Regions from separate parts of the Homo sapiens genome. Here region 1 is linked to region 2. A link means that fine-mapping ties the variant in region 2 to the expression of a gene that starts in the linked region. Tissue or cell type: whole blood. Region 2 holds a variant in brackets; the other region holds the start of a gene. All regions are shown on one strand. Distances are between the middles of the regions. Region 1 holds the start of AK8 (adenylate kinase 8). Region 2 overlaps AK8 (adenylate kinase 8).

What was found. PIP is the estimated chance that this variant, and not a neighbour inherited with it, causes the effect.
Region 1: it holds the start of AK8, and the variant in region 2 is fine-mapped to the expression of AK8 in whole blood (TOPMed, PIP above 0.99).

What each region holds. Positions count from the first base shown.
Region 1 is chr9:132,874,309-132,882,635 of GRCh38, reverse strand. AK8 (adenylate kinase 8) reads left to right here and starts at 4,352. Exons shown (of 13, transcript NM_152572.3): 1 at 4,352-4,464; 2 at 7,437-7,521. The coding sequence starts at 4,381. SPACA9 (sperm acrosome associated 9) reads right to left here and starts at 3,738. Exons shown (of 4, transcript NM_001316897.2): 1 at 3,622-3,738.
Region 2 is chr9:132,845,067-132,853,393 of GRCh38, reverse strand. All of the region lies in intron 5 of AK8 (adenylate kinase 8), which reads left to right. Among named protein-coding and RNA genes, the nearest start is that of AK8, 29 kb to the left of the region's middle. The variant C/A (reference allele first, on the strand shown) is at 4,607.

The DNA of each region.
Region 1 (8,327 bases), 29 kb before region 2:
AGGAATAACAAGACGGGGCTGGGAAATATTTCTTTCTGCTGTGTCCAGAGCAGGGCTGGAGCTGGGGGTCCAGTTTGAACCCAGGAGGTCAAGGCTCCAGTGAGCCATGATCGCAGTACTGCACTCCAGCCTAGGACACAGGGAGACCCTGACTCAAAAAAAAAAAAAAAAAAGAGGCAGGGTAGGGGGAGCATCCCAGTTGATGCAAGAAGAGATGGCATCAGAGGAATGAAAGGAAACACAAGAACAGACCAGGAGATGGCCTCCGCGAGATGATGGGGGTGGTACATCAGAGCACTTGGAGGAGGCTGGGGAAGAGGCCCTTTAGCAAGATGGAGCCCAGCCATGGAGCCTCTATCCCTGGAGCCAAAAGCCAGCAAGGCTGCCTTAGAGGAGCCACCTTAAGAGCCACTGAGTGAGTCTCCTGGAAAGACAAGAGAGTATGCTTCTGCAGCAGAGCCACAGCACTGTGACTGTCAACAGACACAGGGACAGTCGCAGCTGCCCTGGGGGTGGGCCTGGGCCAGGGCAGGCAGGGCAGGGGCCTCTTTCCAGCTCAACCTCCTATGGAAAGGAGAGCTGAAGGTGGGGAATGAGATGGGGGGTCCATGGTTTATTGACACCTGCCATATCCTTGGCTGGTCCCTGCCACATGGAGCAGACATGCTGACTCACGCACAGTGGTTTCCTGTTGTGCCTCCCGTGGTGTCCGGCTCACCCAGGACCAACTAGGGTGAGGTGAGGGAGACACTTGCCCCCATGCAAAACTTAAGGAGGCGCCAAAAAACTCGGCAATCAAGATGAAAATAGGCCAGGCACAGTGGCTCATGCCTATAATCCCAGCACTTTGGGAGGCTGAGGCAGGAGGATCGCTTGAACCCAGGAGGTCAAGGCTGCAGTGAGCCATGATCGCAGTACTGCACTCCAACCTGGGTGACACAGTGAGACCCTGTCTCAAAAAAAAAAAAAAGCATCTTGAGTAGCTGGGATTACAGGTGGGTGCCACTACACCTGGCTATTTTTTGTATTTTTAGTAGAGATGGAATTTCACCACGTCAGCTAGGCTGGTCTTGAACTCCTGGCCTCAAGTGATCTCCCTTTCTCAGCCTCCGAAAGTGCTGGGATGATAGGCATGAGCCACTGTACCCAGCCCCAAAAACGTTTTTTAAAGAATGGGTCTTGCTCTTTCACCCAGGCTGGAGTGTGGTGCTGTGATCACGACTCACTGCAATCTTGACCTCCTGGGCTCAAGTGATCCTCCCGCCTCAGCCTCTTGAGTAGCTGGGACCTCAGGTATGTGCCACCATGCCTGACTACCTTTTTTCTTTTTTTTTTTTTCTTCTTTTTTTTCTTTTTTTTTTTTCTTTTTTTTTGTAGAGATGGGGTCTCCCTATGTTGCTCAGGCTGGTCTCGAACTCCTGGGCTCCAGCGATCCTCCCACCTCAGCCTCCCAATGTGCTGGGATTAGAAGCATGAGCTGGCAACATCAGAATTTGTAAAGAAAAGATTGCTGGCTGGGCGCGGTAGCTCACGCCTGTAATCCCAGCACTTTGGGAGGCCGAGGTGGGTGGATCACGAAGTCAGGAGATTGAGACCATCCTGGCCAACACGGTGAAACCCTGTCTGTAATAAAAATACAAAAAAAGTTAGCCGGGCACGGTGGCGGGCGCCTGTAGTCCCAGCTACTCGGGAGGCTGAGGCAGGAGAATGGCGTGAACCTGGGAGGCGGAGCTTGCAGTGAGCCGAGATGGCGCCACTGCACTCCAGCCTGGGCGACAGAGCAAGACTCCATCTCAAAAAAAAAAAAAAAAAAGATAGCTGCACCTTGCCATACTGAGGCCTGAGGCAAAAGGAGAAATCAGTAACACTGAGCCTACCTTTACTTAAATTTTTGACATGTTATTCTAAATGGATTTTAGGCAGCATTATTTTTGATTTTTAAAATATATTGCATTAAAACGTGAAAAACATCCACCTCAATGATTGAATTGCCGGCACTCCCTTAAGTTTTGTGCTGAGGGTGCATCACTTGCCTTGCCCTAATGTTGGCCCAGGGCTTACAAATGACTCAAAGGTGAAGCTCCAGAAAAGTGAGAGAGAGCACATAGGTGGAGTTCCAGGGAGAAAGGGCGTGTGCCCTTTCGGCCTGGCTTTTCCCTCATCATGGTGGGAGCTGTGGTTGGTAGTGGTTGAGAGGAACTGACTCTGTTCTTGATCCTAGCAACTTGTGACATGCACGCCAGGAATGTCATGAGAGGAGCTGTAATAAGCTATCCGAAGTGATCGTCCCTTGAACGAGAGCCACTGCAGCCAAATTAGTGTGGATGAAGGGCACAGGGGACGGGCACTTCTCGATCTGGGGGAGGAGGGAGGAAAAAAATGATTACCCATAGGTTTTAGGCTTTAATTGATTTGTATTTTTCCAGGCTGCTAAAGAAGATTGAATCATGGTAGGAAAAGCGCCTAGGGCTTAAAATAAATGAGGAGAAAGGCAAGTCATTTCAGAAATGTCCAGGAAGCAAAACAAACCTCTCCAGTGCAAATGGCAGGCATGGCTGTTGTGTTCTTTGCTCAGGGGGAGGCAGCTTCCTTTTCTTCCCCAGCTATCTTTACAGTTGGGTTTGACAAGCCTACCAAGGTGTACACACTTTGAGGAAGCGGTTTGGAGGGGAAGAGGCAACAGTGCTGGCTTTTACGTTGGGAGGGCATGTCTCTGGGCTGATGGCTGGTAGAAAAGGGCTTTAGCTGGAGCCTGGATGCAGAGTTCATGCCCTGGCTCTGCCCAATCTAACCAGTGGCCCTAGCCAAGATTTCCCCCTTTTCTGGGCCTCAGTTTATCCATCTGTCAAATGAGAGAGTTTGGATTAGCCTCTTCTTCAAGAGGCCTTCTGGTTCTAAGGCTGTATGATCAACAACTGATGAGAAAAGAAGCCCAGAAAGGGGAAGTGACTCACCCAAAGTTACCCAGCCAACCACTCCTCATTGTTCTAATCCTCCAACTTCTCATCTGTAAAATGGGAATGAAGGTGCCTATTTCACAGGATTGTTGGAACGATTAAATGAGATACTACTACTAATAGTAGCCCCATATATTGTGTGCTTACTGCATGCCAATTACTCTCCAATACATTAGCTCCTGAAATCCTTCAGCAGTTCCCTCTTCACAGGGCAGGAAAGTGAGGCACGGAGCAAGCAGAGAGTTTGCCAAGCTCACACAGTAAGAAGCGGAGCCAGAACTTGAAGCTGGGGCTGTCTGCATTGACTGTGCCATTTTCCCTCTCCATAAGGTACAGAGACAACAGAATTTTGCCGAGAGCACAAAGAGTTCAACAAACTCTTACAGCTCCTACGATTAACGGCAACAGACAAGAGCTAGAGATCCCAATTCAGTGTTGCGACTAATAAAATATCAAGCTGCCCCGTACCACTGGGAATTCATACGACTTAAAAAGCTCCGTCTCCAGCGCGAACCTTCCCCTCGCCCCCACCCCGAGACAGCTGTGCAGGCCCCTCCATCCTCCGGACCCCTCCATCTTTCCATCCTCCACCCCAGCTTCCAGTTTCTGACCCAGAGGCCGGGGTGGGGTCCGAGTGGGCCCACCCACACTCATCCCTGTTTACCCTTGCTTGTCCTAGAGCGCTCTTCGCTCCACGGAGCACCCAGAGAAGTTGGAGTGACTCCGTGAGTGTCGGTGCCCCGGAGGGTGGGGAGGCCCGTTCCAGGACTTGGGAGGCGAGGGTGGGTGGGGACGTCGGGCGAGAAGGGGCGGGGCCGCGGGCGTGATTGTTACCGCCGGTGCCATAGCAATCGGGTCACTTGGCGGCTTGGCCAGAGCCGGGGAGCTGGGAGGGGTCTACCGGGGCTCGACTCTAGGAGTTGGGCTGAGGATTTCCACCCGATCCTCGAACCTCCGGCCCATCTCATGGACGCCCCTCCCCCTTCAAACACCCTCCCCCACATTTATTCCCGCGTCTGTTTTAAAGATGGGTAAACTGAGGCACAGGGAGCCGGGCCGGGGAGCACTGACAGAACCAGAAGCAGGTTCTGCCTCCCGTCCCCTCGGAGGGCCGACTTGCCCCTTCTGGGTTTCGTCGGGGGTCTCAGATACGAGGAGGCCCAGCTGGAAGCCACCTGAGGGTGTCCCCCGCTAAGATGCGCAAATGGGAAAAGCGAGGCCGGGGTTGGGGAAAGAACTTGCCCGAGCCGCAGAGCGCGTCAGCCGGGGAGGTCGGGGCGGGGGCGACCCGCGCGACCGAGGATCGGGTATCTGGGCCCGGCGCGGAGCCTGCAGGGCGGGGCCGCGGCGCGTGCTGATGACGCAGTCGGCGCGGCGGCCCTAGCGACGCGGTTACTAGGGAGCGGCGAGCCGAGACGGCTACATGGACGCCACTATCGCCCCGCACCGTATCCCCCCCGAGATGCCCCAGTACGGGGAGGAGAACCACATCTTCGAGTTGATGCAGGTGACCGGACACCCCTGCCCGTCGCGACGCTGGCGGCGGCTCGGGAGCCTCCACTGCGACGTCGGGTGCGCGGCCGGGACCCGCAGCTGGGGCCGAGTCGCGCGCCCACGAAGCAGCCCAACTCGGGATGTACGATTCGTGTGTCGCCGTGACCCCGAGGGGGCCCTCGAGCTGGGGACGCTCCTGGTCCTGCCCGGGTTTGCCTCAGGCGGACCCAGGGGGAGGAAGGGGGCCACTCGAGCCGGGATTTGGTCCTGGCTGTGCCGCCAGCGGGCCTTATGGTCTGGAACCAGTCCTTTCCTTTTCTCGGTTTCCCCACCTGTGAAATGCCAGGTTGCAAGAGGTGGTCTCCCAGGGGCTCTCCCGGCGCTGACAATTACCATCTGTCGAATTTGTGGGGAGCCTCTCGGCCCAGGTTTCTGAGGTGGGCATTGTCCGAGTTCAAGCTGGCATCTCCATCCTCAGAGAGGGCCGCCTCTGGGACAGCAGCATCTCCCACCTTGGTCCCTCCTCCTCAGGGCCAGACGTCCCCGGCAGCTCCGAAGCTCTCATTCTGGCTCCAGGCCTGACTGGGCCCCCAGCTCACCGTGTGACTTTGGGCGAGGCCCCGTCCCCGCCAGGGCCCCAGTTTTCCCTTTTGCACGTGGTGGAGGTCAAGGCTTTCAGGAGCTGGAGGGGAAGAACTCTCAGCCACTCAAAGGTTCTGAGAGGCAAGGGGAAGCTGGAGCTCAGTTTTCAGATCATTTGTCTGCTTCCCAGGGTACACCCCATCCCCAGGGGCATGGCATGGAGGGCATAGTGGTGTCTGTGGTCATTTGAGGTTCTGCCCTGCACACTAGACAGCTGAGCCCAGACGAAGAAACCCGTGTCTGCACCTCCATCAAACACATTTCCCTCGGAAAGTGTTAACTGATAGAGGGAGAGCAAGAGATTCCTAAAACTGCTTGAGTGGCCAATCACAAATCAAATAGCTAGCTGGGTTAGAAGTCAGCAGGTCAGGGCAGGATGGGGGATCATCTGGAGCCCTGTTGTCTGCTCTAGAGAACCTGGTGTGTTTTCCACATTGATTGTTGGAGGAATTGCCCAGGAAAGCTTTTATTGATTTTGAAACAGGGTCTTGCACTGCTGCCCAGGCTGGAGTGCAGTGATACAATCATGGCTTACTGCAGCCTTGAACTCCTGGGCTCAAGCAATCCTTCTGCCTTAGTCCCTCCAGAGTAGCCGAGACTACAGGTGCAGGCCACCATACCTGGCTAATGTTTTTTTTTTAATTTTAGTACAGACGAGGTCTTGCTATGTTGCCCGGACTGGTCTTGAACTCCTGGGCTCAAACAGTCCTTCTGCCTCGGCCTCCCAACAAGAAAGCTTTCAGTCCAGTATTTCCAGTCCTTAGTCATCTGTGGATTCCCTCCATGTTTTTGACCATTTCCATTTTTTATACTTTTGATTTTAAAATAATGTTAGATTCACAGGAAGTTAAAAAATAGTATGGATTTCTGGTCTCCCCTCCCACATTGCCCCCGTGATAACATCTAACATAACTGTAGCACATTGTCAAAACCAGGAAACTGGCATTGGTACAATAGGATTACCTGAACTGTAGGCCTTGTTTGGATTTCCTCCATTTTTACCTGCATTGATGTTTTTGTTGTGCATACAGTTCTGTGCAGTTGTATCACATGTACAGATTTGCATAACCGCTACTGCACCTCCATTTAAACTAATCACTTGTTTAAATCAACTCACCTTTTAAAAAATTAAATAGCCGCTTTTGCCTCATCCTAAGTGATATCCTTGAAATTATTGATTTGATGTACTTATATTTCTAATACACGTTAAATACACAATGATTTAAACATGAAATGTAAAATATTTATGTGTGAACCATCTAAAATCATCTCATTCCATCATCGCACCAGTGACATACAAACATGAATTCACTCCAGCTGTGCTACTGAACAGGCAGAGAAGCTGAGGCCCAGAGAAGGGAAGGGACTTGCTGATGAGATACAGTGGGGCTGGAACCAAGACTTCTCATGGCTCGGTGCTCTTTCCCTGCCCCACACTCCCTTCACTCCAAGAGGGCTACAGCCCCTCCCTCCTTGTCCCTGGGGCTCAAGGATACCCCTTATTGCAGCAGCACAGCTGCTATGAGCTCCTCCTCATTTCTCTGCCTAGGGTTCTGCAACCCCAGAAGCTGCTTTCTCTTGATATGCTTGCCTGATTGGATGAAATGGCCAGAATATCCCAGGACTATTTAGAAATCTGGCTGGTAACATTCTGTTCCATTCTGGAGAGACACAGTTAGTGGTGACGGTCATGTTCCCCAGCAAACATCTGCGCTGGGCATCTGCTATGACTGCCAGGTATTGGGGTGCCAAGGGCTCTAGGCAGACAAGGAGGCCCACAGAACCCATGGCCTGCCGGGGGGATGGTGGCCTGGTGAGTAGGGACAGGGTGAGGCGTGGAACAGGGCGATGCCCGCAGGCAGGTGCAGGAGCATCTGACATATTTACGTAGTGCACATACTCAGGAAGGTATGTTCCCATTGAGATCTGAGACTGAGCAGAAGTTAGCCAGGATGAGGACAAGGCAGAAGCTTCCAAGCTGAGGGAACAGCATCTGCTAAGGCTCTGAGGGGAATGGTGATGCTTGAGAACTTGGAGAAGGCTGGTCTGGGAAGCTCAAAGGGCCCCAGGGGAGAGAGCCCTGGACTGCCTGCTCTGAATCAGGGGCGAGACTCCTCCACTTCTGCCTCCCCATAGGTGCCTCCGCAGCAGCACCACGTGGCCCCCCTCATGCCTCTGCTCATGGGGACCCAAGCAGATGCCAGCTGGGGCGGTGGCTGGGTCCCAGGTTGAAGGCATGTTTGGTGGGGTGCAGTGGAGAGAGCAGGCCCCATAGCTGGTATCTGTGGTGACCAGGTGCCCTTGCAGGTATTAACCACCTGGGTGTCTGCCCTGCACCCACAGAACATGCTGGAGCAACTCCTGATCCACCAGCCCGAAGATCCCATCCCCTTCATGATCCAGCACTTGCATAGAGACAACGACAATGGTGAGCACTGGCTGGGGCTCTTCCCCTCCTCGTCTTCCCTTCCCCTCCTCCTCCTTCCCCTTCTTCCCTGACTCCTCTGCCTCCTCCTCCTCTTCCTCTCCAGGAACCCTGCCCCATCCCGAGAATAGCTGAGCACCATTCTGTCCTACCTGTGTCTGAAGGGAGGTCAGAAGGGAGGGGTTTCATCAACTTGAGGTGGTGGTTCATTGAAAAATGCCTTGATTTCTTTTGGAGCACAACTTATAAAAATTCTCTTGCCAAGTTATTAAAATGAAAACCCCAGAATGACCCATGGAATCAATTATTAATGCTTTCGCCTGCCCTAGCTGATGTCGCCTGTTGGGTTTCAGCTCTCTGATCACTCCACTTGTCAGGTGTAAGTTTGGTTTCTGGTCTACCTAGACAGGCAAGCTCTTGGGCTTTTCCGACGGTCTCATTATCGGAGCCTGTTAATGAGTTTCCGAGCTCCCCAAACCTTTGCAGTTGGCCGGTGCAGGTCAGCCTGACCCAAGGCCGGAGCACAGAACTGGGGAGGAGGGAGGCGCTCACTCAAGGAAGGCCCCTCACTCCACTCCATGGTCCATTTGCCAAGTGGAGGATCAGTCCTGTCCTTTGTGAGCTGTTGGGGAGGACCGATGTCTTGGAGCTTTTATGTTTCTTTCGTTGGAGCATTAGCTGCTTTGAAGGAGCTACCAGTGCACCAGTGAAATTAGTGCTTGGTACAGCTGAGGACAGAGCCCAGAGATGCCCTGTGTGGAGGTTCAGAAGGCCCAAGGTGAGAAATGACACTAGGTAGTTAAAAAAAA
Region 2 (8,327 bases):
TTCTTTTTTCCTTTTCTTTTCTTTTTTTTTTTTTTTGAGGCGGAGTCTCATTCTGTCGCCCAGGTAGGAGTGCAGCGGCATAATCTCGGCTCACTGCAACCTCCACCTCCCAGGTTTGAGCGATTCTCCTGCCTCAGCCTCCTGAGTAGCTGGGATTACAGGCATGCGTCACCATGCCTGGCTTATTTTTGTATTTTTAGTAGAGATAGGGTTTCCCCCTTGTTGGCCAGGCTGATCTTGAACTCCTGACCTCGGGTGATCCACCCGCCTTGGCCTCCCAAAGTGCTGGGATTACAGGTGTGAGCTACCGTGCCCGGCCTATTTTTAGGTTTCACTAGTATAATTATGACATGTCTGGGATGAATTTCTTTGGGCTTATTCTTTTTGGTGTTTGCTGAGCTCCTGAATTTATAGGTTTGTATTTTCCTCCAAACTTGCAAAGTTTTTAGCCTTTATTTCTTCACGTAACTTCCTGCACCCTACTCTCTCTCCTCTCCTTCTGCAACTCCAATAACACAAAGCATTCACCCTTTTGCTGTTGTCCCACAGGTCCCTGAGGCTCCAGTCTTTTTTTTTCTTATCATTTTTTCTTTCTTTCTTTTTTTTTTTTTTTTTTTTTTTTTTGAGACCTAATCTCACTCTGTTGCCCAGGCCAGAGTGCAGTGGCATGATCTCGGCTCACTGCAACCTCTGCCTCCCAAGTTCAAGCAATTCACATGCCTCAGCCTCCCCATTAGCTGGAGTTACAGGCATACACCACCGTGCCTAATTTTTTTTTTTTTTTGAGATGGAGTCTTGCTCTGTCACCCAGGCTGGAGTGCAGTGGTGCGATCTCAGCTCACTGCAACCTCCGCTTCCCAGGTTCAAGCTATTCTCCTGCCTCATCCTCCCGAGTAGCTGGGATTACAGGCACGTGCCACCACACCCGGCTAATTTTTTGTATTTTTTAGTAGAGACGAGGTTTCACTGTGTTAGCCAGGATGGTCTCAATCTCCTGACCTCATGATCCACCCGCCTCGACCTTCCAAAGTGCCGGGATTACTAGCATGAGCCACCGCGCCCGGCCCAATTTTTGTATTTTTAATAGAGTCAGGGTTTCACCATGTTGGCCAGGCTGGACTGGAATTCCTGACTTCAAGTAATCCTCCCGCCTTGGCCTCCCAAAGTGCTGAGATTACAGGCGTGAGCCACCATGCCTGGCCCCTATTGTTTTTACTCTCTATCAGTCACATGTGATAATTTGTATTGAACTATTGTCAGGGTCACTGAATCTTCCCTTGTTTTTTTATTCCACTATTGAGCTTGTCCTGTGAGTTTTTTATCGCATCGGTTCTTTCTGCCTTCTGTGTCTTTGCTGAGACTGTATCTTTCTGTGTTTTTACCAGTTGGAAGTTTCTTGTAATAGCCGCTTTCGAGTTTTCATCCGCTAATTCCAGTATCTGAGTTACGTGGTGGTGACATCTGTATCTGCTCTCATGTGAGTAGAGATGTTCCTGGTTCTCCCTGCGCTAAGTAATTTTGTATCCTGGACATTTTAAATATTGTTATGAGGCTCTGGGTCTTGTTTAAATCCTATGGCAAATGTCATTATTTTTGTCTTAGCAGATGACTGATTCAGTTGGGTTCAGGTTGCATGTTCCAGCCAGGCTTCTCAGAGTGTGGTTTCCATGTCAGTCCTGTGTTCAGCAACTTTGCAGTGCCGTGCAGTGACCGACCATGCAGCTCTGTGCTATGTGCACATCACCCAGGGGCACCTGGGGACTTGGCAGTGAGCTGGCCACAGTTCATGTCTCAGTGTCTCTGAAATGCCGTTTAGGGTCAGGCCCACACGTGCACAGCTTGGGGGTGAGCCTTTGATCTCATCAAACACTGTGTTTAGTTACTTCCCTGAGCTCCCCTCTCTGTCATCTCCTGATAACTCCTAGTTCCCTGGTGCTCCTCTTTTTGGTATTTTGGCCAGAAAACTGAGGTTATTTATCCTGCTCTGCCACTCACTTCCTGGGACTGCACCCATGACCAGGGTCAAGTGGTGGGAGGACAGAGAAAGGAAGGATTGACAGGGCTTTGCCCTGTTCTCTTGGGACTGGAGAAGGGTCCCCTCTTTCAGTGTTTCAGGCACCTGCAGGCCCCTTTGACACAGCAGTGCCACCACAGTCACCGCAGGACTGCCTGGAGGCAGGAGTGTGAGAAAACAGAGAAAAGAAAAACCCCACAGAGGTATCTCCCCTCCTAGCTCGCTCTTCTCCCATCTGCTTCCCACTTTCAGCCTTCAGGTTGCCTTAAGGCCAGGCCAGGAGATACTGGTTTGGTGGTATTTTGGATTCTAGTCTTTTCCCCCAACTTGCCTACTACTGGGTAACTTTCTGAGTCCTCGAATAGCTGCCCTGTGTGTTTTATGAATGTATTACAGCTACTTTCAGTGGGGTTGACAAGGCGGGTGGCGCACATTTCCTGTCTCCCAGAATCAGAACTTGTGTCTTTTTTTTTTTTTTTTTTAAATGCACCTACAGATTCTCTCTCTTTCTCCATCTGTCTCTCACTTGAAAATGTATTAGGGCCAGGCTGGGCATGGTGGCTCACACCTGTAATCCCAGCACTTTGGGAGGCCAAGGCAGGAGGATTGCTTGAGTCCAGGAGTTCTAGACTAGCCTGGCCAACATGGCAAAACCCCGTCTCTACTAAAAATACAAAAAATTGGCCGGGCGTGGTGGCCCACGCCTGTAATCCCAGTATTTTGGGAAGGCGAGGCGGGCGGATCACCTGAGGTCAGGATTTCGAGACCAGCCTGGCCAACATGGCAAAACCCTGTCTTTACTAAAAATATAAAAATTAGCTGGGCATGGTGGTGGGTGCCTGTAATCCCAGCTACTTGGGAGGCTGAGGCAGGGACAATCACTTGAACCCAGTAGGCAGAGGTTGCAGTGAGCCAACATCACGCCACTGCACTCCAGCCTGGGTGACAGAGTGAGACCCTGTCTCAAAAAAAAAAAAAAAAGTATTAGGGTTGAATGCAGTGGCTCACGCCTGTAATCCCAGCACTTTGGGAGGCTGAGGCAGGAGGCTTCTATCGCAACGACTCAGCTCTGATGTAATACAAAGGCAGCCGTACACATGCCATTGCACTCCAGCCTGGGCTACAGAGCAAGACTCTGTCTCAAAAAAAAAAAAAAAAATTAGCTGGGCATGGTGGTGGGTGCCTGTAATCCCAGCTACTCGGTAGGCTGAGGCAGGGGAATGGCTTGAACCCAGGAGGTGGAAGTTGCAGTGAGCCGACATCACGCCACTGCACTCCAGCCTGGGTGACAGAGTGAGACCCTGTCTCAAAAAAAAAAAAAAAAATGTACTAGGGTTGAATGCAGTGGCTAATGCCTGTAATCCCAGCACTTTGGGAGGCTGAGGCAGGAAGATCACTTAAGTCCAGGAGTTCAAGACCAGCCTGGCCAACATGGTGAAACCCTGTCTCTACTAAACATACAAAAAATTTGCTGGGCATGGTGGCGTGCACCTGTAATCGCAGCTACTCGGGAGGCTGAGGCAGGAGAATCGCTTGAACCTGGAGGAGGAGGTTGCAGTGAGCCGACACGCACCACGGCACTCCAGCCTGAGTGACAGAGCAAGACCCTGTCTCAAAAATATATTGATTGGGAAGCCCCAAACCTGAAGCAGGAATCTTTCCAGCATGCTGGCGAGGGAGTAGCAGTTCTCACGAGCTTGTTCTGCATGGCCCTCAGCCATGGGATCTCCATCACAAACACCCTGCCGGCCGGGCTGCAACACTGGCTCTGAACAGTGTGTTTACATCTGAATTGTCTCAAATTGTTCACTGTGAGTGGATGGTCTTCTGCCCAGGTGTGGGCAGATATCCAGAGCCCAGAGGCTATTCTAAATCGGGGGTGGACACATGTTTTCTGAAAAGGATGGAGAGACACTCGTTGAGGCTTTGCAGGCTATATGGCTTCTGTCACAACGACTCAGCTCTGATGTAATACAAAGGCAGCCGTACACAACACAGACACAAAAGGGCACGGCTGTGCTCTAGAAAGACTTTTATCTTAGAAGCAGGCAGCAGGCCAGATTTGGCCCGCGGGCTGTAGCTTGCCAACCCCTGTTCTAAGTAACACTTTCACATTGATCATGAAAACATTTCTGCCCTTTCTCTTGAGCTCTCAATAAAAAGCAAACTTCCGGCTGGGCGTAGTGGCTCACACCTGTAATCCCAGCACTTTGGGAGGCTGAGACAGGCGGATCATGAGATCCAAAGATTGAGACCATCCTGGCTAACATGGTGAAACCTCGTCTCTACTAAAAATACAAAAAATTAGCCGGGCGTGGTGGCACGCGCCTGTAGTCCCAGCTACTCAGGAGGCTGAGGTAGGAGAATCGCTTGAACCCAAGAGGCAGAGGTTGCAGTGAGCCGAGATCACGCCACTGCACTCCAGCCTGGGCGACAGAGTGAGACTCCGTGTCAAAAAAAAAAAAAAAAAAAAGCAAACAGGAGTGTTAGAAGAAAGGCCAGCTTCCCCATAGACTTTCATTTTAACTAAGTTCCCTCCCAGTCACCTGACTTCCAAGCTCGGCGACTTGATTCTGCATCTCCAGTTGAGTG[C/A]CCCCTGCAGGCCCTGCATGGTTTTCACTACCAGGACCCTTCCCCACACCCGAGACCTTCCTCCTCAGCACCCCCCACTTCTAGCAAGATGGTCTTGCCTGCCTTGGGCTCACCATCTGCAGTTGAAGGCAGAGTCAAACATGACCAAGGCAAGGCAGATGGTGAGAAGGGTTGTGATGGAAAAACCAGGGCGGGAGAGTCAAGTGATTCCTGAAGCCTCTAGTGAAGGGGACTGGAGTGGACTGTGGAGGGGCCGTCTTAGGCTGGAGGGAATGGCAGCCAGAAGTGAGGCAGGAACCAGAAAACCCAGTCCTTTACCCCAATTTCACACTCTTAACTCAGAGTGTCAAACCAACCTCACGGGAACTTTTCCTAAAACTGACCCATCAGTCGGTCACTATTTTTAAGGTTTCCCACCTCTTTTACCTAGGAAGTGCCAAACAATCTTTTGGCAGAGCATTAAAGGGGAGGGAAAGATGGCCCGAGTGACTGGAAATGGGCCAGCATTTTCCCATACAAAATGCTGTGTGCCTTAATCCATTATCCATTATTTCTTATGCATTTGCCAAGTTGGATTAGACTCTTGCATAGCAGATCACCAGGCTGGAAGCATTCAAGGGAGTCTTCCTTTCTTCTCTTCAATCTTTTTTTTTTTTTTTTTTTTTTTTTTTTGAAACAGGGTGTTGCTCTGTTGCCCAGGCCGGAGTGCAATGGCACGGTCATGGCTCGCTGCAGCCCCAACCTCCTGGGCTCAAGCAATCCTCCCACCTCCGCTTCCTGAGTAGCTGGGACTACAGGCACATGCCACCATGCCCATCTGTTTTTCATTTTTATTGTTTGTAGAGTCGTGGTCTCCCAATGTTGCCCAGGCTGATCTTAAACTGGGCTGAAACGATCCTCCTGCTCAGCTTCCTGAGTAGCTGGGATCACAGGCGCGCACCACCATGCCCGGCTAATTTTTGTATTTTTTGTAGAGACAAGGTCTCACCATGTTGCCCAGGCTGGTCTCAAACTCCTGTGCTTAAGTGATCCACATGTCTTGGCCTCCCGAAGTGCTGGGGTTATAGGCATGAGCCACCATGCCTGGCTCTCTTTGATCTTTAAAGCTAAGCTGTTTTCTCTTTTTCATCATGATAGCTACTCATCAAATTTGGTCAAATATAGGGGGGTGGTACTCCTTTGGCTTAATTGTACCTTAGTTGCCCAGGACTGGACCCCCTCAGCAGGGGTGGGGGCTGTCTGTGAAAGCACAGCTGGATATGGTCTTGCCCATCAGGCAGTGTTTCAAATTCAATATGCCAAGAGTTCCTGGAACCAGGACTGTCAGTGTGATGAGCATTCGTTCTAAGCACACAGGAAGGGAGAAACTATGTAGTTCATATCCTCAGGAATAACACGCACCTAAAAAATGTGGCATACTCATGAGCCACCATCACTGCCCCTGCCAAACGAAAGGCCCGGTGGAGATGGCGCCACGGTCTGTCTTAGTCAGCAAAGGCAGCAGGACTTCCCCACGCCTGGTGGTAGAAGACCTGCCTTTCCCTTTTCAGATTTCCTTTGAAGATGCTATGATCCCCAAACCACCTGTGACCCAGGAACTTGAGCAGGAACTGCTGTGTCTGGGCCGCTCTTCCCCCGGCCCGCTCTCCTGGTCAAGAGTGTTTGCTTCAACCAGCTGCCTTAGTGCAGCAGAAGCCGGGAGCTGGCCTGCTGACCACTGGAAGGCAGAAGTCTCTGGGATCCAGGCAGGCAGGAGAGCAGGCAGGCCCAGAGCCTCTGCTCCAGCTCTCTATCTCGGCCCGGGAGAAGCCAGAGACCTGAATGGAGCATGCGTCTGAGCCTGGCATCAGGCACTACGCCCAGCAGCTTCTCCAGCTTCACGGGACCCTACATGGCCAGTGTTACTATTATTGTGCCCATGTTGTAGCTGCAGGGCCTGAGGCACGCCCAGAGCCACACCGGGGGAAGCGGCAGGGCTGGCCAGGGTAGACCAGGCACATGGTGCACAGGGCCAGCGCTCTGACCCAGGGGCTCCAGGGCTGTGCTATGCAGCCCAGGACAGAAGCTCAAAGGCTGGGCAAAGCCTATCTACTCCCTGTCGTGTTTTGTGCCATTCACAGGCCCCCAACGTGTCCCCATGCCACCTGATATGTTCCTCCACTAGAGTCGTGACCAAAAGCCTTGTCATGGTTTGTTGGCCTACCCGGCTCCCCAGTCAGTGTTTCCTAAAAGTACTCATTCATTCATTCATTCATTCATTCATTCATTCATTCATTCATTCATCTATTCTCTCATGCAACAAATCACTTTGCTAAGCACAGGGACCAAAGCAGTGAACAAGAGAGTTAAACGTCTTGCTCTCAAGGAACAGAAGTTCTAGTCATGGAGAGACAGACAATAAACCAGATAAATAAGCAAAGGAGTCACGTCAGTTAGAGGCAGATCTGAACTTCATAGCTGGAAGAGAGGCTTGGCATGGGGCCAAGGCATCTGTGGGCCCCTCTGCCCCATCCACCCCACACATCCATTGCAGAAGGCCCAGGGTGGGTGTCTGGATACCACTGAGCAACCCTCAAAGTCTCTCTCCTTTCCAACCTCAAAACATTTGAAACAGTACTATTTCGTGTAAGTAATTTTTACAAGTTACAGCATTCCAATGAAAATGTTTCTGGTGGGTAAGCATTCTGGATTCTAGGTGGAAATCTAGAATCCAGAGATGCAGGGCCTCAGGGTGGGCTGCCAGTGATCGTCTGTGTGTCCCACTGGCTATATACACGCCCTTGAAGCCGCACTGCCCTTCTTTCCCCACTCCAGAATCTAACAAGGCTGCACAGTTTTCACACAGGATCCAGCTGCCTGGACAGATTTGTTTCCGTGATTTTTAAAAAATTTCTACCTCACTGAGTGATAGTTTCTGGGGAAAATATGGTGATTCTCTCTGTGTTTGCAGCTGGATATCCCAAACATGCCCTCAGTGATCTAGAATAGTCATTTTTTTTTTTTTTTTTTGAGATGGAGTTTCGTTCTTGCCCAGGCTGGAGTGCAGTGGCGCGATCTCTGCTCACTGCAACCTCCGCCTCCTAGGTTCAGGCGATTCTCCTGCCTCAGCCTCCTGAGTAGCTGGGATTACAGGCACATGCCACCATGCCCGGCTAATTTTTATATTTTTAGTAGAGACCATGTGGGCCAGGCTGGTCTCAAACTCCTGACTTCCAAGTGATCCCCTCGCCTGGGCCTCCCAAAGTGCTGGGATTACAGGCATGAGCCACTGCACCCGGCCTAGAATAGTCTTTCAAATATGCATTTAACTTCTGTGAATTCTTCCTGAGCTTATTTAAAAGCTTGGTCTGCATAACCTCTTTGCATAGTGCACCTGCAGTGTGGACAGAGTACAGGACCATGCATCCCAAGTCACCATCATAAAAATGATGATGAAGTCTATTGTTAGAAATTAAAATCTCAATTATAATTGACATCGTTATTAGTTACATTACACTATATGTGATTACATTGTATTATAAATAATATATTGACTGAGTATTTATAATGTGTGTTATTATTATGATTATTTTGATGATGGTGGTAGCTGTAGTCTACGCGCCTGGTCTGGCATGTTATCTGCTACATGACATTGCAGGTGCACCTTGCACTATGCAAGAGGCTGTAATTACATTCTGGGTGACTCCCCTTGATTGGGAGTGTAGCATTGGCAGCAGGACCG